Homo sapiens: one gene and its partners. The protein of the gene in region 1 purifies or fractionates together with the protein of each later gene. This does not show direct contact. Each region holds a gene or a part of one and is shown in the gene's direction. Other genes may lie near its edges.

Region 1 (3,500 bases):
TCCAGGACTTTGGGAGACCGAGGTGGGTGGATCATTTGAGGTTAAGACTTTGAGACCAGCCTGGCCAACATGGCAAAACTCTATCTCTACTAAAAATACAAAAATTAGCCAGCTGTGGTGATGTACACCTGTAATCTCACCTACTCAGGAGACTGAGGCAGGTAAGTTGCATGAACCCAGGAGGCAGAGGTTGCAGTGAGCTGAAATTACACCACTGTACTCCAGCCAGGGTGACAGAGCAAGACTCTGTCTAAAAAAGCCAAAAAAAAAACAAAAACAAAAACAAAAACAAAAACCCTGGAGTGCAGTGGATAGTTGGGAAGTTGGTAAAAGATAAAATAACCCCAGGAAGAGGATTAGATTAGGGGTGTGCTCTGGGATTGTGATGGGTCTCCTCAGCTTTAAATTTGTAGCTGTTTTCTGGCTCTGCCTGTTCAAGAGTCTTACCCTCTTCATGTAATCCTGTAGCATTCCAGTTTTTATGGCAAACAGCAATAATTGTGTCCCTGGGCCTTCAAGGTTATATAAAACGTAGAAATTGTTAAAATAGAATTGTGAGCAAGTTTTAAAAAATTATATGTGTGAGAGACAGGAGTCCTAAAAGTAGGGCCTCACCAACTCTGAATGCATCATTCGGGAGAAGCAGACCAGGCAGGAGTTCCCTAGAGGGTCCTGTCTCAGAGGAATACAGCTTCACAGGACCAGAGGAAGCACAGATTTCCTGTCAAGCCCTGACTGAACCTCCCTTCTAGAAATAATTTCAGGAGAGCCTCCTACTGAGAGATATTATGCAAAGGTTCCCTCGAGGCCCTTTTGTTCCCAGTGGCTTCAATCCATCAGCCAAGTAGATCTTGTTGCTAATATCTCACTGTTTCTCAGATAATTTGCATTATATAACTCACTTTTTTTGTTTTTACATCATTGAATTCACCAGACTGATAGCCACACTATCTTATGTGGTTGTGAGGATTTCATGAGATGATTCATGCAAAAATTTTAGAACAGAGCCAGGAATATTATACTCAACAATTGTTCACTCCTATTATTATAGAGGAGCTACTACCTGTGCTATTTCTGAGAAATCATAGCTACATGCCCAAATAAAGAATTTTAGGAATGTAGTGTCTGTATGTGCCCTTAAGAAGTATAACTTGGAGAGAATATACAATTGAAGAAACCTTAATTGAAAATAGGGCTATATTAATACCGTCTTCTTCCAGTGTAGCTATTCTGGTATAATTGGTCCTGGTCCTGGACTTAGGCTTTTAAATTTGTTATTATTGAGAAATAATTCACTTACTATAACATTTACCATTTTAAAATGTACAATTCAGTAGTCCTTAGTATAGTCACAAGGTTGTGCAACCATTACTGCTAATTCCAGAACATTTTCATTATCCCAAAAAAGAAACTGCATACTCTCTTAGCAGTCACTCCTATTCCTGTCTTACTCTCCCAGGCCCTGGCAACCACTAATCTACTTTCTGGCTCTGTGAATTTGCATATTCTGGACATCTCATATAAATGGAGTCATATAATATATGCCCTTCTGTGTCTGCTTTTTAAATTTAGTGTAATGTTGTCAGGGTTCATCCATGTTGTAGCATGTATCAGTGTTCCATTCCTTTTTATAACTGAGGAATATTCCGTTGTGTAGATATACCACATTTTGCTTATCCATTTATCAGTTGATGGACATTTGGGTTGTGTTCCTTCTTGGCTATTATTAGAAGTGCTGCTATGAATATTTGTTCATACAAGCTTTTATATGAACATTGGGTATATACCTTGAAGTGGAATTCTCTTGAGTATATACATAGGTGTGGAATTTTGGAGTCCTATGAATTCTGTTTAACTTTGTTAAGAACTGACAAACTGTTTTCTGCAGTGACTGCAACATTTTTATATTCCTGCTAGCAATGTATAAAGGTTCCAATTTCTCCACATCCTCACCAACGCTTACTATTTTTCTTTTTTTTTTTTTTAATTGCCCTCCTAGTGGGTGTGAAGTGGTATCTCATTGTGGTTTTGATTTGCATTTCCCTAATGACTAATGATGCTGAACATGTTTTTATGTGCTCTCTGGCCATTAGTATATTTTCTTTTCAGAAATGTCTCTTCAAATCCTTTGCCCATTTTAAAATTGAGCTCCTACTTTTTAAAACCATAAAATAATAATATGGTTAATATAGTATTTAGCAAAATAGTCACTATTTTCTGGTCCTGGTTCAGTCTTGTGTAGCAGTTAGGCCCTAGTAGGACAGTTAGATGAAGATTAAATTTTTTAGTTACTGTATCAGTTAGGGTTGCCAGAGAAACTGAATCAAGAGGGTGTATATGTAGAGATGAGAAAGAGGGAGAGAAAGAAATTTATATTATGGAATTGGCTTATGTGATTATGGGAGCTGGTAAGTCTGAAATCCATAGAGCAGGCCAGCAGCTGGAAACTCAGGTAAAAGTTGATGATGTGGTCTTGAGTTTGAAATCTGTAGGGTGGGCTGCAACCTGGAAATCCAGGCAGAATTTCGATGTTGCAGTCTTGAGGAGAATTCCTCCTCTAAGAAACCTCTGTTTTTGCTTGTAAGGCTTTGAACAGATTGGAGGGGGCCCAGCCACTCATTATTGAGGGTAACCTCCCTTAAAGTTAACGGATTGTAGATATTAATCACACCTACAAAATACCTTCACCACACCATCTGGGCTAGTGTTTGACCAAACAACTGGGCACCATAGTCTAGCCAAGTTGTCATAAAATTATCACAGTTACTTTAAATGATCATATTCACATATTTTCAGAAAAATGGGACTAATGATGGAGACTATGTTTTTCTAACTGGAGAAGACAGTTACCTTAACTTTACAAAAATTGTGGAATGGAATGGGAAAACGTAAGTCAAATGATTTATCAGTGGAATTATTTTTTCAGTTTTCATTTAAACTACATGTCTACTTCTACATTGCTTAAAAATGTGTTTAGCCTTTTTTGGATGAAAAATATAAAAACATGTAAATAGTCTTGTAATTATTATTCTACAAATCAAGATGGTGGTAAAACATCTTACAGATTAAATATTAGTGATTTGTAGATTTATCATGGCCAGGCATGAATTACAGGCCAGTGAAAAGTCCCACTCTTGCTTAGTAGTCATTGAGTGATGTGTAGTAGCTACAGCACAAATACTTTTCAAACCACCACATGTTTTGGGCTATTTGGCCATTGCCTCTATGAAAGCTGATTTGGGCCAGGGACCTACTTTTTCTCCCCCTTGATCTAATTAAAACTGTTGTGTCTGTGTATGAATAAGATACTGTGGATAGACAGCTCCAGTTAAATCTTGCAAAGTCCTGACCATTTAAGAGAATCTAAACTCAAATGTGATCATCTTTACTCTTTCTTGTGCTTATCAATTATAGGTCACTTGACTGGTGGATAACAGACAAGTGCAATATGATTAATGGAACAGATGGAGATTCTTTTCACCCACTAATAACCAAAGATG
Region 2 (3,072 bases), on another chromosome or scaffold:
GCAGATCCTGCAGCAGCTTGTGGTCCTGGCAGCTGAAGCCCTGCCCATGTTAGAGAAGCAGCTCATGGATCCCCGGGGACCTGGGGACATCAGGGTAAGCTTCTGACCAGCAGTGACTCCAGGGCCTCTGGGGATTCTGTCTTTGGAAGTTCAGCGTTCAGGGATCTCACAGGAGACCCGGTCCCCTTGTTTGGTGAGACTGAACAGAGGAGGTGTTGAAGCTGCTGTGGTGCCTGGGGTGGCAGAGCCTGGGGAACCTGGGTTCCATCTGGGTCTCCTGTTTCTAGCCTGTGCTCCTTCTGCCGGGCTATGCAACAGCTGTTTGCTCTGTGGGTCTTGGTGCTTCAGTCTTCAAATGGGCAGGTGGGCCCATAGAGGGTGGTCAGATGGAAGGAGGAAACCAAGGTGGGCGTGTGGAGAGGTTTGTGGTCCAGTTCCTCAGTCAAGGGGGTCCTGCTGACCCCTCCTTCTCCCCTTCCTTAGACAGTGTTCCGGCCGCCCTTGGACATTTACGACGTGCTGATTCGCCTGTCTCCTCGCCATATCCCGCGGCACCGCCAGGCTGTGGACTCGCCAGCTGCCTCCTTCTGCCGGGGCCTGCTCAGCCAGCCGGGGCCCTCATCCCTGATGCCCGTGCTGGGCTATGATCCTCCTCAGCTCTATCTGACGCAGCTCAGGGTTGGTCCTAAACAGCTGAATGACCTGGGGAGGGGACTTCCAGGTGAAGCTGAGGCTGTGGAGGAGCTCTTAAATGCCTGCCTATAATCTTCTCTGTTCTGTCCCTTTCTAGGAGGCCTTTGGGGATCTGGCCCTTTTCTTCTATGACCAGCATGGTGGAGAGGTGATTGGTGTCCTCTGGAAGCCCACCAGCTTCCAGCCGCAGCCCTTCAAGGTGTGCTGGCTGGTGACAGCTGTGTTCCTGAGTGTGTGCACGTGGTTCTGTGTGGGCATGCATGTCTGTGTGTAGTCTGTCCTATGGGCAAACCCGTGTCAGGTGCGGAGTGTATGGGCTTGTGTTTCTATCCCCACCACCCCCACTCTGTACCCAGCTTGGTGTCTCTGGGTGTGCCGCTGTGACACTCAACCCACATCTCTTCTCTGATTTCCCCAGGCCTCCAGCACAAAGGGGCGCATGGTGATGTCTCGAGGTGGGGAGCTAGTAATGGTGCCCAATGTTGAAGCAATCCTGGAGGACTTTGCTGTGCTGGGTGAAGGCCTGGTGCAGACTGTGGAGGCCCGAAGTGAGAGGTGGACTGTGTGATCCCAGCTCTGGAGCAAGCTGTAGACGGACAGCAGGACATTGGACCTCTAGAGCAAGATGTCAGTAGGATGACCTCCACCCTCCTTGGACATGAATCCTCCATGGAGGGCCTGCTGGCTGAACATGCTGAATCATCTCCAACAAAACCCAGCCCCAACTTTCTCTCTGATGCTCCAGCATTGGGGCAGGGGCATGGTGGCCCATGTAGTCTCCTGGGCCTCACCATCCCAGAAGAGGAGTGGGAGCCAGCTCAGAGAAGGAACTGAACCCAGGAGATCCATCCACCTATTAGCCCTGGGCCTGGACCTCCCTGCGATTTCCCACTCCTTTCTTAGTCTTCTTCCAGAAACAGAGAAGGGGATGTGTGCCTGGGAGAGGCTCTGTCTCCTTCCTGCTGCCAGGACCTGTGCCTAGACTTAGCATGCCCTTCACTGCAGTGTCAGGCCTTTAGATGGGACCCAGCGAAAATGTGGCCCTTCTGAGTCACATCACCGACACTGAGCAGTGGAAAGGGGCTATATGTGTATGAATAGACCACATTGAAGGAGCACAATGCCCTCCTGTGTTGATGCCACTTCCCAGGGTGGAGACAGTGGAAAAGAACCGAGGACAGGAAAGGATTGGGTAGGTGAAGGGGTCAGGGGACTGGTAGTCACCCAATCTTGGAGAGGTGCAAAAAGCACTGGGGGCTACCCGTTAGCTGCATCTGCCCTGGCTGTTTGCCCGTTCATGTCACAAACTGCCACTACTATGTACCTGCAGTGGGGTTGCAGAGATGGGGGAGACTCAAGTCTTACTCCCCAGGAGCTCCCAGGGCCCAAGGAGGAGAATGCTGCCTCCTTTCAGTCTGGTCTACACCCACTTTCTGGTAGCCTCTCTGCTTCCTGTAATTCTGGCTGTTTTTCCAGACTCAGCTCAAATAGTGCCCCTCCTTAAGCCCATCCCTCGCCCCCAGCCTGAGGTGATCTTTCCCTCCTCTGAACTATTAGAGCAGTTACTGTCTGTTCAGTTCGTTTGGCAGGCACACACAGTGGCATAAATTCTATTGTTTTGAACTCTGATTTAAAATTAAATTGCAGCTGGGCGTGGTGGCTTATGCTTGTAATCCCAACACTTAGGGAGTCAGGAGAATCACTTGAGCTCAGGAGTTCTAGACCAATCTGGGCAACAGAGAGACCCCATCTCTTTTAAATAAAAAGTTAAATTGCTTAATTTCCCCCGTATTCCTGGCCTGTCTGCCCCTTTCACATAATTTTAACCTGGTTTCTTGTATGTAAACTCCTTGAGGGCAAGAACATGTTTGAACATAGACTTCTTCGTGTCCTTCCTAGCACCTATTACAGTGCTTTGCTCAGGGGCCATCCAGCACAGGCAGATGGGGGGCAGAGAAGCCCACTGGAAGATTGCAGAGTAAAGGGAATCCATTTGTGAAATCTGCCTGCAAGAAGTGGGTGGTGACGGTGAAAGAGAAAGCCTAAGAGATTATAGAGTTGACGTTTATTGAGGGCTTAATAGGTGCCAGGCGGGGTTAGGTGGTGGTATCCGTATCTTATGTGCGGAAACTTGTCGTACAGTCATAACGAGCCGTATGGAGTAGGTACTTTCATTTACCTTCATTTTCTGAGTGAGAGAACAGGCTCAGCGCAGGGGCCCGTTGTGTGAGGAACTTTGATGCCTGGCTAGCAAGCTCCATCCTCAAGATGAGAAGCTGCATGTGGGAACTCTGGCCTCCAGTTCTGTCTCAACTGTTGGTCTTTGTGAATCACTGCTTGCCTCTACTGTCACTGCCATGGAGCAGCTCAGCCCAGGGT
Region 3 (2,403 bases), on another chromosome or scaffold:
GGATATCCAGGAAGGGCGATGGCACTTGTCCGAGGCTGGATGTGGAGGTAACCGTGATAGGGGCACAAGACTCTTAACAGTGTTGCCTCCAGCTCCACCTCCCCACCCGCCGTGTTAGGCCCCTCCAGGTCTGCAGGCCAGGACAGCAGGTGACAGGAAAGGCAGTCGTGCACAGGCGTAGGTGCCCAACTCTTAGGTTCGTCCTTGACCCCCTGCCAACCCCAGGCTCTTTCTCTGGTGTCTGCACCTCTGTGGAGGGCACGGAGGTGGCCAGGTCCTAGTCCTGCTGGGCCACCCCTTTTCCCAGTCACCGACTCAAGGACTTGGAGGCCAGAAGGGACCTTAGGGATCATCATGCTTTACTGATGGGGAAACTGAGGCCCAGAGAGGTCTGCCACCTAGAACCTGGCAGACCCAGCTCATCCTCCCTTCCGTTTGTGAAGCTGGGAAGCGCCTTGCCCAAGAATCAGCTCATCTCCTCACTGGCAGCCCCAGACCCTGACCTGATGCCCCACCGTCTCAGTTTCTCCATCTGCGAAATGGGTCTCACAGTCCCTGCTCTTCTTGCTTCCGCAGGCTTTTGGGGCATGTAGCGGACGGGTAGGCAAGAGGGGGCCTTACGGAGTGCGTGTATGACCAGCCTCTCTGACTGTCTGTCTGTCTCTCCGCCTTGCTCAGCTGGCCCGAGATAACTTCTTCCGCTGTGGTGTGCTGTATGAGGACTCCCTGTCCTCCCAGGTCCGGACTCAGATGGAGCTGGAAGAGGATGTGAAAATCTACCTCGACGAGAACTACGAGCGCATCAACGTGCCTGTGCCCCAGTTTGGCGGCGGTGACCCTGCAGACATCATCCATGACTTCCAGCGGGTGAGGCTGGCCAGGGCCTGGGGGTGGGGGGTGGGAGGGTGTCCCGGGGACTCAGGGCAAGGGGAGCAGGGATGAAAGGAGACTCCTCGGAGTACAGCAGGTGTCTACGGTTAGGCTTACCAGGGTCTTCAAGACACTGCTTTTCTCCTGTTAGCAACAATGGTTCTTGCTGAGTATGAAGCAGCCGAGGCTGATTTTCTCCTCAGCCTCCTGCCAGCTGCACGCTGGCTGTCATGGCAGGGCCAGTGCGTTGTATCGAGGGGTAGTACATTCACCATCGAGTGCATTGCGTGTACAGCTCAGCGGGTCTCTGCAGAGTGGGTCTCATGCGTATTCATGTAACCCCCATGGGTCCTGAGACAGGGCATCTCTCGCTGGGGTCCAGGCTGTCCCAGGAATGGCTGGCCCTCACAGGTTTCATAAATGCACAGCTGGGATGTTACCATGTTCCCCAAACCTCAGCTCTGTAAACATGAGAAGAAGCTTTATAACAACAGAGGCGTTTAGCAATCAGCTGCTATTTTCCTCTATCATGTGGCACCTTCTACAACAGGCTAAGAGAAGACCAGGAAAAGGGAGTGCCCGCCCAGGTATTGAGGAGTCTGGAGAGGACTCTGCTCCTGAAGGCCCAGGGTCCCAGGAAGGCATGGTGGGACTCCTGCCCCTGCTGGCCAAGCTGCTTTTTTTTTTGGAGACAGAGTCTCGCTCTGTCGCCCAGGCTGGAGTGCAGTGGCACGATCTCGGCTCACTGCAAGCTCCGCCTCCTGGGTTCACACCATTCTCCCGCCTCAGCCCCCCGAGTAGCTGGGACTACAGGTGCCCACCACCACGCCTGGCAAATTTTTTGTATTTTTAGTAGAGACGGGGTTTCACCATGTTAGTCAGGATGGTCTCGATCTCCTGACCTTTGATCCGCCCGCCTCAGCCTCCCAAAGTGCTGGGATTACAGGCATGAGCCACCGCGCCTGGCTGGCCAAAGCTTCTTGCAGCCCTGCCTGGGTCAGCTGTCACCTCCTGCAGAGACTGACCCAACCCCTTCTCCTGCCAGGGTCTGACTGCGTACCATGATATCTCCCTGGACAAGTGCTATGTCATCGAACTCAACACCACCATTGTGCTGCCCCCTCGCAACTTCTGGGAGCTCCTCATGAACGTGAAGGTGCGCAGGGGGTTGGGGGGATGTCTGCAGCATCCTGTCCCTCCCTTGCCCCCTGTCTCATGGAGGCTAGGTCTGAGGTACAGGAAGTTCCTGTGTCAGGGGTTGGGGGAGCAAGAGACATTGCTGGCACCTGGGCCCTGTACCCAGATTGGTCTCGCCTCTGCTATCCCCCTGCTTCCACATCTCCAGAGTCAATGCCCCGAGACCGGCTTCCTTAGTGTTCAAGGTTGTACCCTGGGTACGGACTCGTGCGCATGCCATTGCTCCTGGCAGCACAGGTGCAGGCACCGGGCACAGGCAGGAAGTGCCTGAGGACATCAGAAGGGCCAGCCCAGGGGCCTCTGGAGGAGGGAGGTGGGCTGGCATTTCGGGCGAGG
Region 4 (3,500 bases), on another chromosome or scaffold:
GAAAAATTAATATGAAAGAAATCTGACTAAATGAAAAGTTAACTGCCTCAGAATTTTTATTGATGTGTTTCATAAAAGGCAGTAAGAATTGTCTTTTTTACAGTTACTCATATGTTTAATGATTCTTTGGAAGGTCTTAATTACAGAGCACGGTGACCTGGGTAATAGCAGATTTTTAGATCCAAGAAACAAAATTTCCTTTAAATTTGACCACTTACGGAAAGAAGCAAGTGACCCCCAGCCAGAAGAAGCAGATGGAGGTCTGAAGTCTTGGAGAGAATCCTGTGACAGTGCTTTAAGAGCCTATGTGAAAGACCATTATTCCAACGGCTTCTGTACTGTTAAGTATCTGACTGCTTCGTTATCAGAGAGTGTTTTCTTATATTTACCTTATCCTTTGGAGGCTTTGGCCTACCAAACATCCCTACTTTCTTCTTAGCCATGCTCTCTTCTCCTCTGCATTTTATTCCCTAAATCATTTTGGAAAGGGGTATAAATGAAATTTTTATATGGAAAATTTCTTTTTAAAATCCCAATGCACAAAAAATTTAGGTATCAGTGTATTCTGTTTTCACATTTGACTTATGAAAAATGCCTTACACCCATCAGAAAAAGGTCTTTGGTTTTTCTTTTTTTCTTTCTTTTTTTTAAATTAACCTTTTAAATTAATTTTTTTTTGTTTGTATTTTTACCCAGATCTAAAAGGTCTTTGGTTTGGACATGGAGAAAAAAATGGTATACTAAGATTGTTGAGAGAGCTTTTGCTCATATTTATGGCTTTTTGATATAGGCATTTTTACACAAACTACTTCTACATAGTTTAGATGTTTATATTCAGTAATCAAAACTATTAGAACTAAACAATTGGCTGGACATGGTGGCTCATGCCTGTAATCCCAGCACTTTGGGAGGCCAAGGTGGGCAGATCACTTGAGGCCAGGAGTTCGAGACCAGCCTGGCCAACATGGTGAAACCTTTACTTAAAAAATACAAAAAGTAGCTGGATGTGGTGGTGCACACCTGTAGTTTCAGCTACTCAGGAGGCTGAGGCACAAGAATCACTTGAACCAGGGAGGTGGAGGTTGCAGTGAGCTGAGACCACACCACTGCATTCCAGCCTGGGCAACAGAGTGAGACACTGTCTCAAAAAAACAAAAAACAAAAAAAACCAAACAATTTTTTTTTAATCAGGAGTGATTTTCTTTTTGTTGTTGTTTTTGCTGTTGTTGTTGTTGTTCTTTTGTTTTTTGAGACTAAGTCTTACTCTGTCACCCAGGCTAGAATGCAGGGGCACCGTGTCAGCTCAATGTCACCTCCATCTCCTGGGTTCAAGCAATTCTCCTGCCTCAGCTTCCTGAGTAGCTGGGATTACGGGTGCCCACCACCACACCTGGCTAATTTTTATATTTTTAGTAGAGACAGAGCTTCACCATGTTGGCCAGGCTGGTCTCGAACTCCTAACATCAGGTGATCCAGCTGCCTCGGACTCCCAAAGTGCTGGGATTACAGGCGTGAGCTGCTGCACCTGGCCTAATTTTCTTTTACTCCCTCTTGACTGTAAAAATAGATAAATTTGGCTTTATTATTTTTCCTTTATAAAATTATGGCATATTAAGAAAAATATTGATTAGAATATTTTTTATTTTTAAATTGACAAAAATATGATATGTACAACATGATATTTTGAAATATGTATACATTGTGGAATGGCTATATTGAGCTAATAACATGGATTTCTATACATATTTATCATTTTTTTGTTGTGGGAAAATCAGCAATTTTCACTAGAATATTTTAAATATACAATGATGATGAATTACATGGCAGTCTAGAATACAGTTAAGAGCACCTACTTTGAAGCCTTACTAACTGGTTTGATTCCTGGCCCTGCCAATTAATTAGTTGTGTGACCTTAGGTAAATTACTTAACATCTCTGTGCCTCAATTCTTTGACTGTAAAATGGAAATAATTGTTTTTATCTCATAGAGTTGTTGTGAAGATTTAATGAATTAGTAATATATGTAATATATGCCTGGAACAGTGCCTGGCACAAAGTAAGCTCTACATAAATGTTAGATGAATGTTAGGCTAGGTGTCATTATGTTTGATTTTTTTTTTTTTTTTTTTTTTTTTTAATGAGAATACCCATTATGGTGGACTGGACAAGTATAGAATTCCTGTTGGGAAGCCAGTATTGCAAAGGGGAGACATGATAGACTCCCATTTAGAAATTGACTGTTTAATCCTAAATATACTTTGAATTTATTGTTTGTTACCTGTTCAAAGTTTGTCACTACCCATTCTTAATTTGGAGAGCTCCAGCACCAAATAACCCTACTGTGTCCTTAGCTATCAAATGACCTACAGAAAGTCATGGAATTGTTGTGATGGTGTCTGCTGTATATAAGTATCCTATGTCTTATGTCTTCAGCTGACCTGCTTAGTAGTCCGTAATTTCATCTCCTTATTCCCTATCACATTTTCTACATAGTATGTTCCAAACATTTTTCATTGTCCTCTGACAGGCATCTAATCCCCCATGTTTTGTAAGGATTGAAACTGACAGAAATTTTTTTTTTTTTTTTTTGAGACAGAGTCTCACTCTGTCTTCCAAGCTGGAGTGCAATGGTGTGGTCTCGGCTCACTGCAACCTCCCCTTCCTGGGTTCAAGCGATTCTCCTGCCTCAGCCTCCTGAGTAGCTGGAATTACAGGCGCCTGCCACCACACCTGGCTAATTTTTGTATTTTTAGTAGAGACGGGGTTTCACTGTGTTGGCCAGGCTGGTCTTGAACTCCTGACCTTGTAATCCGTTCGCCTCAGCTTCCCAAGTAGCTAGGACCACAGGTGCACACCACCATACCTATCTAATTTTTCTCTGTGTGTGTTGTGTGTGTGTAGGGACTACAAGGCATGAGCCACCAGGCCCGGCCTATTTCTCCTTCTTTGTCTGCCCTTTCCACCTTGCCCTTTCTCCCTCTTCTCCACTTTTTCCCTTCTCTCATCTCTCTCTGCATCACCACCACGTCAGTACATATTCTTTGCCTGCTAATGCCATTTCCTCTATCTACTTCTGAACCCTTTAATTTTTTACTTTAGTCTCCATTCTACAGAAACTGCTCTGAGTTTACTAATGGTTCCTGAGTTACCTGGTCCAGTGTCCTTTTCCTTGTCCATGACTTCCGAATGGCATTTCACACTGAAGCCAATCAACCACTTCTAGAAATTATCTTTTACTTAGGCTGCTGTCAGCAACCCCTAATTCTTTTTTTTTTTTAGAGATGGAGTTTTGCTCTTTTTGCCCAGGCTGGCGTACAGTGGCATGATCTCAGCTCACTGCAACCTCCGCCTCTCAGGTTCAAGCGATTTTCCTGCCTCAGCCTCTCTAGTAGTTGGGATTACAGGTGCCCACCACCACACCTGGCTAATTTTTGTATTTTTAGTAGAGATGGGGTTTCACCATGTTGGCCGGGCTGGTCTTGAACTCCTGACCTCAGGTAA
Region 5 (3,500 bases), on another chromosome or scaffold:
TACCAGCACTTTGGGAGGCTGAGGCCGAAGGATCCCTTGAGCCCAGGAGTTCAAGACTAGCCTGGGCAACAAATTGAGACCTTGTCTCTAATAAAAATTTTAAGAATTAGTTGGGGCCGGGCATGGTGGCTCATGCTTGTTATCCCAGCACTTTGGGCACTCAGGGCGGATCACCTGAGGTCAGGAGTTTGAGACCAGCCTGGCCAACATGGTGAAACCCCGCCTCTACTAAAAATACAAAAATTAGCCAGGCGTGGTGTGGCACGCGCCTGTAATCCCAACTACTCAGGAGGCTGAGGCAGGAGAATCACTTGAACCTGGGAGGTGGAGGTTGTAGTGAGCCAAGATCATGCCATTGCACTCCAGCCTGGGCGACAGAGCAAGACTCCATCTCAAAAAAAAAAAAAAAAAATTAGTCAGGTGTGGTGGCATGCGCCTATAGTCCCAGCTACTTGGGAGGCCTAGGCAGGAGGATCGCTTGAGCCTGGGAAGTCAAGGCTGCAGTGTGCCGTGATTGTGCCACTGCCCTCCATCTTGCGTGAGAGGGTGAGACCCTGTCTCAACAACAACAACAACAAAACAAACCTGACAAACATGCTAAGCTAGTTCACATTTCTTGTATCTAACAAGGGTTTTTTACCCTGATCTTTTCATGGCCCTCTTTCCCATCATTCAAGTCTCAGCTTAAATGTCAACTAAAACTTCTTCCCTGAGCCATCTATCTCTTGTTATACCCCTACCCATCATATCACTGTTTTATTTTCTTCATTAGCATTCATTACTATTTAAAATCCTTTCCGCTACACTAGAATTTAAGCTTTATGAAGTAGGAGACTTTGTTTTCTTTTTTTTTTTGTTTTTTGTTTTGTTTTGTTTTTGAGACGGAGTCTCACTCTGTCACCCAGGCTGGAGTGCAGTGGCATGATCTCGGCTCACTGCAAGCTCTGCCTCCCGGGTTCACGCCATTCTCCTGCCTCAGCCTCCCGAGTAGGTGGGACTACAGGCGCCCACCACCACGCCCGGCTAATTTTTTTGTATTTTTAGTGGAGACGGGGTTTCACCCTGTTAGCCAGGATGGTCTTGATCTCCTGACCTCTTGATCTGCCCGCCTCAGCCTCCCAAAGTGCTGGGATTATAGGCGTGAGCCACCACGCCCAGCATGAGACTTTGTTTTCTTTACTGCTTTGTCTCCGTTACCTACAACAATTTCTGGCACCTTGTAGGTGCTCGGTGAATATTTGTTGAAAGAATGAATGAAATCCAGGATGCTGTACAGAGAAAATAGCCTTCCTTTGGGATTGTTTTCTTAGGGCTGTAAGTGTTTTTTTTATTTTTTATTTTTTGGTGTGTGACAGGGTTTTGCCCTGTCACCCAGACTGGGGTGCAGTGGCACAATCTCGGCTTACTGCAGCCTCTGCCTCCCGGGCTCAAGCAGTCCTTCCACCTCAGCCTCCTGGGTAGCGTGTACCACCATGCGTGGCTAATTTTTTATATTTTTAGTAGAGATGGGTTTTTGCCATATTGCCCAGGTTGGTCTCGAACTCCTGGACAAGCGATCCACCCACCTCAGCCTCCCAAAGTGCTGAGATTACAGGCATGAGCCACCACACCCAGTCAAGACATAGGTATTTCTTTCTTTTTTTTTTTTTTTGAAACGGATCACGCTCTGCTGCCAGGCTGGAGTGCAGTGGTATGATCTTGGCTCACTGCAACCTCCGCCTCCTGGGTTCAAGTGATTCTCCTGCGTCAGCCTCCTGAGTAGCTGGGACTACAGGCACGTGCCACCATGCCTGGCTAATTTTTGTATTTTTAGTAGAGATGGGGTTTCACCGTGTTGGCCAGGATGGTCTCAATCTCCTGACCTCATGATCTGCCCGCTTTGGCCTCCAAAAGTGCTAGGATTACACGGTGAGCCACCATGCCCAGCCCAAGACATAGGTATTTCTGTGTGATAGCCATGATGTACTGATACAGAACAATCAGTCATTTCTCAGGTGATTGTGAGATAAAATGGGTTGTCCTCACCTTTTGAAAGTGCTTCTTGTTCATTTTTCTTTTCTCATCTTTATACAATCTTTCTTAAGGATATATGGCAGGGAATGGCATGAGAAAGGGGCTTGTAAGCTAAAGCTTAAGGAACCATTCGAGCTGAACCATTTGGGGATAAAATAAGTTGCGAGAAATGTATCCCAAGTCTTTGGGATGATGATGAGGTGGTTGCAGATTCAGGCTTGCTGCAGTTTTAGCTCCTGGCTGAACTAGAGTTCATAGCCCAAAGAAGAGTTGACAGTGTGGGAGTGGTGTTCGGTGTCTCCCAGGTAGGAGGGAGACAGAAAAAATTCCTGCTGAAACCTTTCACAAAACTGGGTTATGCAGATGACCAAGGTTGTGAAAATCTGAATAGGGAATGTCAATCAGGACTTCTGCAACCTCTAGTTTTGGGTATTTAAAATATATATCTTTGAAATAATTATAGTTTCACAGGAAGTTAAAAAATGTGTATAGAGGTTCTGTGTACCCTTCACCAAGTTCTTCCCATTGCATAATTAGAGGTACATTTCTTTTAATCTGAGTAAAAGTGTGTTTCTCCACTTAAATTCAGGTTTTCCTTGTGGTGCTAATTATAACGTAATCCAGATCTCAAAGTTAAACTTTTTTCTCCATTGAGCTTTCTTTATGAGCTCAAGAAAATTTATCTCTCTCAGACGTATGAGTGCTAACTGATCCTAGTGGGTTGGCAGACCTAATAAACTTCAAAGTAAGCAATATAGGATGTTTCTAGAAATAGTTGGTACACTGTTCATACACTAACACTTCTTTTAATACTCTTTTGTAGTCTAATTACAAAAACATGGTATATTCACTGTACATATTTAGAAATGAATATATAAAAAGGAATCGACCAGGCACTGTGGCTCACGCCTGTAATCTCAGCCTTTTAGAGGCTGAGGCAGGAGGATTGCTTGAGGTCAGGAATTTAAGACCAGCCTGGGCAGCATAGTGAGACCCTGTCTATAAAAAAAATAAATTAGCTAGGCAAGGCAGGAGGATGGCTTGAGCCCAGGAAGTTGAAGCTGCAGTGACCTATGATTGCACCACTGCACTCCAGCCTGGGTGACAGAGTGAGACTCTGAAAGGAATTACAGGGAGACAATATAGTGAGTAACGATGGCCTGTGGAGCCAGACTGCCTGCAACTCTGCCACTACCTGTCTGCCCTCAGACAAGTTCCTTTATATACCTGAGCTCCACCGTTCTCATCTGTACGGTAGACATACTAATATATCCACCTCATAGGGTTGTTTTGAGGGTAATTGAATTATATATAAGCAGTTTAGAGCAGTGCCTAGTACATTGTAAGTACTCTTCCTACTCATTACAGATGGCAGGAGAGCTGGCTGACAAAAAGGACCGTGATGCATCACCTTCCAAGGAGGAAAGGAAGCGATCACGGACTCCTGACAGAGAGCGGGATAGAGACCGGGACCGGAAGTCTTCCCC
Region 6 (3,500 bases), on another chromosome or scaffold:
ATCATGATGCTGCTGAGAGCGCCTTTCTGCCCACCTGCTCCCAGGGGGCCCTTCTGTCCTGCTGTGGGTCCTCACAGTGGCCCGGGGGCCCTCTTTGCACAACAAGCGGAGTTCAAGATCTTGGAGGGCTTTGGAGGCAGGAGCCTTGCACTCCATCCAGATCTTGGGGACTGCAGGTGGCATGAGGGCTGGAGTGCTTCTTGGGTGTGAGACGGGCCAGGTGACAGTGAGGACACAGCCAGCCCTCACCAAGGCCCAGTGCGCCCCATGCCCCTGGACACGTGGCAGTGGGTGGACCCCCATCCTCACCTGCCTTGAGGCCCCCTGTGCACAGACCCTCCCTGGGCCTTGCCGGCAGTTGGTGAGCCACCAGGTCAGTAGAGGTCCCTCAAGGGGCTGTTGGCCTGGTGGGGAAGGTGACACATGCTGGAGGCTCAAAGGAGCTGGGAGTCTGAGTGTGAGGGAGGGGAATGGGGGTCATGGTAGGGCAGGTTCAGCTCCAGGTGCCTCCACCGCCCTGCAGGGCCTGGGCTGCCCAGAACCCCGGGGTGCTGCCAGGAACGCGTGCAGTCCTGGAGATCCATGGGTTGCCAAGCAGTGGAAAAATTGGGGCTCTCGGAGGAGCTAAAAATACAGTGTGGCAGCCCCTGCCTCCTAGTTCCGGAATCCTCTCCTGCCGTTCTGCCCACCCACCCCGTGGAAGACAAGCTCCCTCCCTGCACCCCCACCACCAACGCTGGCTCAGGGCCCAGAAGCACCCAGCCCTGTGCCAGTGCCAGAAGGGCGACACCACAGCTGCCTGCCCACTCCCAGGCAGCAGCCCCCCACAGGTGCTCATGTGCCCAGCCAGTGCCTGCCCTACCCCCGCCACTGCTTCAGGGTCCCCAGAGCCCCTTGGTCCCAGGCACAGTAGGCAGTACCTGCCACCCCAGGGCTGCCAGGCTCAGGGCTTGGCCTGTTCCTCGTGGGGAGCCTGGACCCAGGCAGACCTCTCCCTTCCCTACCAGTGGGGACTTCACAGGGGAGGGGGCTGTCCCAGGCAGACTCAGAACATGTCACAGCGGGGGCCTCCAGGCCCATTGGTGCTGGCCGAGGGCATAGGAGCTCCCACACTGTGCTGTGGAAGGCCCTCCTCGCCTGGCTCCTGGGAGGCAAGTGAGGGAGCCGAGGCCTGGGGGCTTCAGTGGCTGGCTCAGGTCCCTCGCGTGCTGGGATTCAAGTCTGGGTACCCTAACCCTGGCCTGTGTGCCGCTCAGAACCATGGGCCCATGCAGGAGCCCCCAGCTACTCTCCACAGCTCGGTGCTGGGCCTGCCTCAGGAGCCCACACTCCCTGGCTCTGGTTTTCTGTCTGCACCGCAGGGGCTAGGCACATGGCTGCAGGTCTAGTGAAGGCCAGCATGGCCCTGTCCCCACCCACACCACACACTCAGCTTGACTGTTGACTGCTAGGCGGGGCGGTGGCCCGGTGGCTTCCCGAGAGTCAGTGCAGCTGCCCTAGCATGTAGGCATTCGGATGGAGGTGCTGGCATCACCACACCAGGCTGGCCAGGCCCAGGCCCAGAGGGGGACCCTGCCTGCCAGAGCTAGAGTCAGGGGAGAGGCATGGCCCCGTCCTCTGGAAGCCCCAGGCTATTGGTTGACAAAAGCAAGTGCTGAAGAACCATGGTGATGTCCCACTAGCATGGGTGGGGTGAGCCCCTCAGACCTCAGAGTCTTCATCTGCAAAAGACCCTGCCCTGTGCAGTTCCATTGGTGCTGGTGGACTGCCGGGGGGGGTGGATGGGACGCCCCTTCTTGGTGCCCTGACCCTTTTGCTGTCCAAGGCATGGGGTCTGGCCTGAGCCATGGGTACTGGGCCCTGCAGAGCCTGGATGGTCCTGCCCTGCCTCAGCCAGAGCTGGTGCCGGCTGTAGAAAAGATTGCGAAGAACGCAAATTCCTGTGCCTGTGGGGAGGTGGCCACGCCCTACAGCCGGGGCTGGGGAGCTCTGAGGACACATTCCTGCGCTGGTGGCCCCGCCAACCCACTTTCCAGATGGAGAGCAGAGGGGAAGGGTAGCCTGCCCAGGGGCACACAGCTCAGCAATGAGACTCCCGCCCCCTTCCCTTCTCAGTTGGCACTGGCACCTTCCAGCGTATTGTTCCCCATAGCCCCGTGCCCCTGAGATCAGTAAACTGTGGATTCCTTCTGGAATCCTTGCAGAAGTGGACACCACCCCCCAGTGAGAACAGGCAAGGCTGTTTTTGCAGAGCTCGCTGTAGCAGGGAGTCGGCCACCGCCACCCGCGTTTAGCAGAGACTCACAGGCGGGCGGGGGAGTGGGAAGCCTCATGGTTTTCTCATATGGATAATTCACTCTATACATAGAAAGCTTTTTATAGACACAGGGAAGGCTCGGGGATGCCCTGAGAGAGGCTGCTGGCTGGAATTTGGGCTCCTATGAGATGAGACAAAAATCACAGAAGCTGTCAGTTATTACCCAGGTCCCAGCCATTTGGGGCCAGTGGCCAGATTGCGGGTCAGAGTGCTGCATATATGGTCTGGCCGTGGTGTGTTTGCAGGTTCAGCCTCATGCTGAAAAGCAGTTGGAACATTCTCCGGTGTAGAGCCTGACGGGGGGCCTGGGTGAGATCGGGCAGCCTTGGCAGCACCACAGAAGGAGGAGAGCAGCTCCGGCCTCAGCCTCCGGGGCCTCAGCCGGAGCCCTGTCTATGCCGGGCCGCAGCCCAGCGAGACCCTGTTACACTCACTGCCCCCAGACAGCACCCGGTGGGACACGGCCAGCTGGGGCAGCTCAGACACAGAGCCAGGCACCCAGGCACGGGGGTATAGGAACCTGATGGGCAGGAGGGCCAGTTTCCTCCCACCGTGGCTCCACCCCACTGACCAAGGGGGATCCTCTTGACTGGGGTCTTTCAGGGGCTTGCACAGGGCAAGGAGCGCTGGGCAGTGCCAAGAGGGGCAGTACTCAGGTCAGGGAGCATCTTCTGTGTCCAGGGACACCCTGGGGCCTGGGGCACGGTGGCTCTCGGCGGCACTGCTTGTCTCTAAAAGGTCAGGATTTTTTGCATGGAGGGACCCCCGGGGCTCTTGGCTGGAGAGGACACTCTGGATGCCAGGGGCCGGGCCTGGGAGAGTTCATAACTCCGTCCACTCAGCCTGTGCCAAGGGGACAGGGACTCCGGCCAATGGAGGCGGGGGAGGAAAGGAGGGTCAGTTCTGGGGCCTCTTTAGGCAGCAACAGCCAAGGCGGGTGGGAATATATGCAGAGGCCCGGCTGCCTGGCTCTTCATGGTGGTGGGAGCAACCCTACTGCCACCAGGAGGGGCGTTGGGGACCTGAGGCTGCCTGGGAGGGACCCGGCTGTCTCTGGCAGCTCAGCGGTCAGCAGCGATGAGAAGCCAGGGGAGCGTGAGGAGCAGCCCAGGACAGGGCCCAGAGTGGGTGGGCAGAGGTGGCCGGAAGGTCTTGCGCATCTGGGTGAGTGGACGGCCACTGG
Region 7 (3,500 bases), on another chromosome or scaffold:
AAGCAACATTTACACAAGATGGACATTACATTATTAGTGCATCCTCTGATGGCACTGTAAAGGTTAAGTATTTGCTATCAGTTTATTTTGGGATGTCTACCCCATCTTTGTCCTTTGAGGAGTTTTCAGTGGTGATAATGGGAATGATTGTGCTGTAGTAAACCTCTTTCCTGGCTATTTTAGCTGTAATTGAGGTGAGTCTGAGACAACAACAGTATTCTGTGGGTAATTCCCATTGGCCTTGGGACCCCAATCTCAAACCTTTTCAATCCAAACAAACTTTATCATGTGTAGGAAAAGAGGAAGGGTGAAGAGTCCTAAACTTAAGCCATCCCCCATTCACAGATACACATGGTGGTTAAATCTGTTTTGCCATAGGTATGGTCCACCTGCTAACAGTCAAATTCACGAAAGTCTCAGTGGCCTAATAAATAGATCTCTTTTTTGTTGCACAGCCTCACTGCACTCCTGGTCCCCAGATTTAGGGCCTTCCTAGTAGCATTTATAGAGGAATAGGAGAGGTGTTGAGTAAAACTAAGCCTTCTCCTAGATAGTTATTTAATAAGTAATTTGCTGAAAGTAATGGATCTTCAGTACCTTTAAAGATTTAGTTATTTGAAGAGAGGTTCTCATTTCCTAGAAAAGATATGAGAAACCCAAATAGAAAATTATTAGAGATCTTTGAGACACTATTTACATTCCGGACCTAATCTTTTTGAATTGTCTTATATGAGTGAGTACTTTGTGGCAGAAGATCTAGACATTTTAATAAAACATTTTAATACAAATATCTAGATATTTTAGATACATATTTAAGTATCTAAAATTCAGACAGCCAGGGGTGGTGGCGTATACCTGTATTCCTAGCTACTTGGGAGGCTGAGGTGAAAGGATCACTCGAACCCAGGAGTTTGAGGCTGCATTGAGCAATTTTCTCACCACTGTACTTCAGCCTGGGCAACAGAGCAAGAACCTGTCTCAGTCAATCAATAAATGTATGTATATATATATATGTATATATGTCAGACCACCGTCTGAAATTGCTGTTCATGATTGGAAATCGAACTGGAAACCCGAAGGCAGGAGATGTATGCTCCCTTGGGATGTATGGGGAAATCACACAGAGCTGTTAGTACTTCAGTCATGGGATTTGCTCTCATGCTATGCATATGGGCCTCACAACTTGTAAATGCCACTGGAAGATGGCTTATCTAAGGTTCCTTATTTTGTGGTCTTTCCCCCTTAGTTCTGCAGTGAGTGGGGCAAAGCGTGTCACTGACCTTTTGAATGGAAAACACTGGAAGCCTTAGCGTTCTTAATTCCTGAAATGTTCATTTTTTCTTCTAAGCAACTGGGCTTCAGAGGAGATTAGGGCAGGCAATAACAGTGTTGACACCAGGGCAACTGTTTTCTCCTGTTTATGGGTATTTATTCAACATCTGCTTTCTGCTAAGCTCCATGGAAGGCACAGAGGAAACACAGCAGAGTCCATGCCTTAGAGACTTTGTACCTGATGAATTGAGTGGTATCAGGACAATGCTATTTAATGTTTGATCCATCCCTTCTCTAAGCACATCTCAGATTTCTGTGCTACCTGATTTAACCCTTTCAGTTCATAGAACCCAGAAGGATAAGGTGAAAAGATAGACCGGGAAAAGTAATGCAAGTGGCCAAGAGTAGCTTCCACTTCAAAGTTCCTCATGTGTGTGTGCTAACATTGTGACTTCTGTTCAGTCATTGTCAGTATAAACTGTACATTGGAATCATTTGTAGCTTTTTAAAAAATGCCTATGCCTCACCCTAGACCTACCACATCAAAATCTCAGGATAGAGTCTCAAGCTAAAAAGCCTCTATTTGAGCCAGGCTTATTGGCACCTGCCTGTAGTCCCGTACTCAGAAGGCTGAAGTGAGAGGATCGCTTGAACTCAGGAGTTTAACGCCAGCAGAGGCAATAGGGCAAAATAGCGAGATCTCATCTCTTTAAAAAAAAAAAAAAAGAAAAGAAAAGCGGTTTTTGTTTTGTTTGTTTGTATTTTATTTTAATTATTTTACATAGAGACAAGATCGCACTATATTGCCCAGGCTGGTCTTGAACTCCTGGCCTCAAGTGATCCACCCGCCTTGGCTTCCCAAAGTGCTGACATTACAGGCGTGAGCCACCATGGCCGACCCCCTGTTTGGTTTTGATATCCAGACAAGGGTAGCTTTCTGGTTGTTTATGACAGTAGCAGTGTTGACAAACAACTAATTTTAAAGAGAGAGAGCTCTATTGGCTAAGGAAAAATGTATGAGAAAAGATCATAGATTTTTAAAAGTTTTTAAGTTTTAGTTTGTGACTTTGGCTTTGCCAATAAATCAACAAATACATGATGAATGCTTACTCTATTACAGTTGGTCCTCTGTATCCGGAACATGGATTCAACCAATCACAAATTGAAAATATTTGGGGAAAAAAAAGAAAATTCCACAAAATTCTAAAAAGCAAAACTTAAATCTGCCCCATGCCAAGTACTACATTGAATCCTTACAAAGGAAGTGGTGTGCGGGCATTGTATTAGATATTATAAGTAATCTAGAGATGATTTAAAGCATACAGGAGGATGTGCATAGGTTATATGCAAATACATCATTTTATGTGTGGGACTTGAGTATCCTTGGATTTTGGTATCTAAAGGGGATCCTGGAACCAATTCCTCACAGATACCGAAGGAAAACTGTATATGGCAGTGCTGGGTATTTGATTGGACCTAAAATCAAGTAAGAAACTTTTTTCCCCTGAATCATTTCTATTCTTTTTTAGTAAACTGTTAATATTTTAAACCCTAAAACTTTAGAAATTTTTATACCTAAAAAAGGTTTATAACTTAAATTTCTGTGTGGTAGATCTGGAATATGAAGACCACAGAATGTTCAAATACCTTTAAATCCCTGGGCAGCACCGCAGGGACAGATATTACCGTCAACAGTGTGATTCTACTTCCTAAAAACCCTGAGCACTTTGTGGTGTGCAACAGATCAAACACGGTGGTCATCATGAACATGCAGGGGCAGGTGAGTGTTCAGAACGTACCCTTGCACAGGAACTGTGGGCCATTCCCAAATCAGCACTTCCTGGTCCAGGCCCACCCTCCCAATAACCAAATTTGGGTTCATTTCTCTGTAAACCGTTTAAGCTGTATTTGTTTTTCAGATTTATTTATAGCTCCATAAAACATCTGTTTGGTATTTCAAAAGTGATCTCCTTTCCCCTGGATGTTTGTATATTAAGCACTTTCATCCTTCGGATAAAGGAAGCTCCTATCTGTCTTTAAGCCTCCTTCAGAACCTCACTGAAGATTTTAAGATAACAGTGTTTGTCTGAGTTAGGGGGATACAGTGTAGTATGGATTACCAACTCAGGACATCTCCCAGCTACCACGATCTAAAGTGGAACACTAATAGGAGAAAGGCAGCAGCAGTGTCCTCGGTGTATTTTTAATCAGAAAACCTGCAAGGTTCT

What was found.
Region 2: the proteins of SCARB2 (region 1) and NOL6 purify together in Homo sapiens (affinity purification with mass spectrometry; one large-scale study listed by BioGRID and IntAct). This does not show direct contact.
Region 3: the proteins of SCARB2 (region 1) and ITM2C purify together in Homo sapiens (co-immunoprecipitation; one large-scale study listed by IntAct). This does not show direct contact.
Region 4: the proteins of SCARB2 (region 1) and CAPZA1 purify together in Homo sapiens (affinity purification with mass spectrometry; one large-scale study listed by BioGRID and IntAct). This does not show direct contact.
Region 5: the proteins of SCARB2 (region 1) and DDX23 purify together in Homo sapiens (affinity purification with mass spectrometry; one large-scale study listed by BioGRID and IntAct). This does not show direct contact.
Region 6: the proteins of SCARB2 (region 1) and INF2 purify together in Homo sapiens (affinity purification with mass spectrometry; one large-scale study listed by BioGRID and IntAct). This does not show direct contact.
Region 7: the proteins of SCARB2 (region 1) and SMU1 purify together in Homo sapiens (affinity purification with mass spectrometry; one large-scale study listed by BioGRID and IntAct). This does not show direct contact.

What each region holds. Positions count from the first base shown.
Region 1 is NC_000004.12:76,175,825-76,179,324, reverse strand, and holds part of SCARB2 (lysosome membrane protein 2), read left to right. Parts: intron 1-2,796; coding exon 2,797-2,888; intron 2,889-3,414; coding exon 3,415-3,500.
Region 2 is NC_000009.12:33,460,853-33,463,924, reverse strand, and holds the end of NOL6 (nucleolar protein 6), read left to right. Parts: intron 1-4; coding exon 5-94; intron 95-483; coding exon 484-678; intron 679-790; coding exon 791-892; intron 893-1,111; coding exon 1,112-1,261; 3' UTR 1,262-2,572; downstream 2,573-3,072. UniProt on the Homo sapiens protein: Part of the small subunit (SSU) processome, first precursor of the small eukaryotic ribosomal subunit.
Region 3 is NC_000002.12:230,874,942-230,877,344, forward strand, and holds part of ITM2C (integral membrane protein 2C), read left to right. Parts: intron 1-678; coding exon 679-867; intron 868-1,915; coding exon 1,916-2,026; intron 2,027-2,403. UniProt on the Homo sapiens protein: Negative regulator of amyloid-beta peptide production. May inhibit the processing of APP by blocking its access to alpha- and beta-secretase.
Region 4 is NC_000001.11:112,654,332-112,657,831, forward strand, and holds part of CAPZA1 (F-actin-capping protein subunit alpha-1), read left to right. Parts: intron 1-133; coding exon 134-340; intron 341-3,500. UniProt on the Homo sapiens protein: F-actin-capping proteins bind in a Ca(2+)-independent manner to the fast growing ends of actin filaments (barbed end) thereby blocking the exchange of subunits at these ends.
Region 5 is NC_000012.12:48,845,664-48,849,163, reverse strand, and holds part of DDX23 (probable ATP-dependent RNA helicase DDX23), read left to right. Parts: intron 1-3,381; coding exon 3,382-3,500. UniProt on the Homo sapiens protein: Involved in pre-mRNA splicing and its phosphorylated form (by SRPK2) is required for spliceosomal B complex formation.
Region 6 is NC_000014.9:104,696,118-104,699,617, forward strand, and holds part of INF2 (inverted formin-2), read left to right. Parts: intron 1-3,500.
Region 7 is NC_000009.12:33,052,675-33,056,174, reverse strand, and holds part of SMU1 (WD40 repeat-containing protein SMU1), read left to right. Parts: coding exon 1-62; intron 63-2,884; coding exon 2,885-3,052; intron 3,053-3,500. UniProt on the Homo sapiens protein: Involved in pre-mRNA splicing as a component of the spliceosome. Regulates alternative splicing of the HSPG2 pre-mRNA. Required for normal accumulation of IK.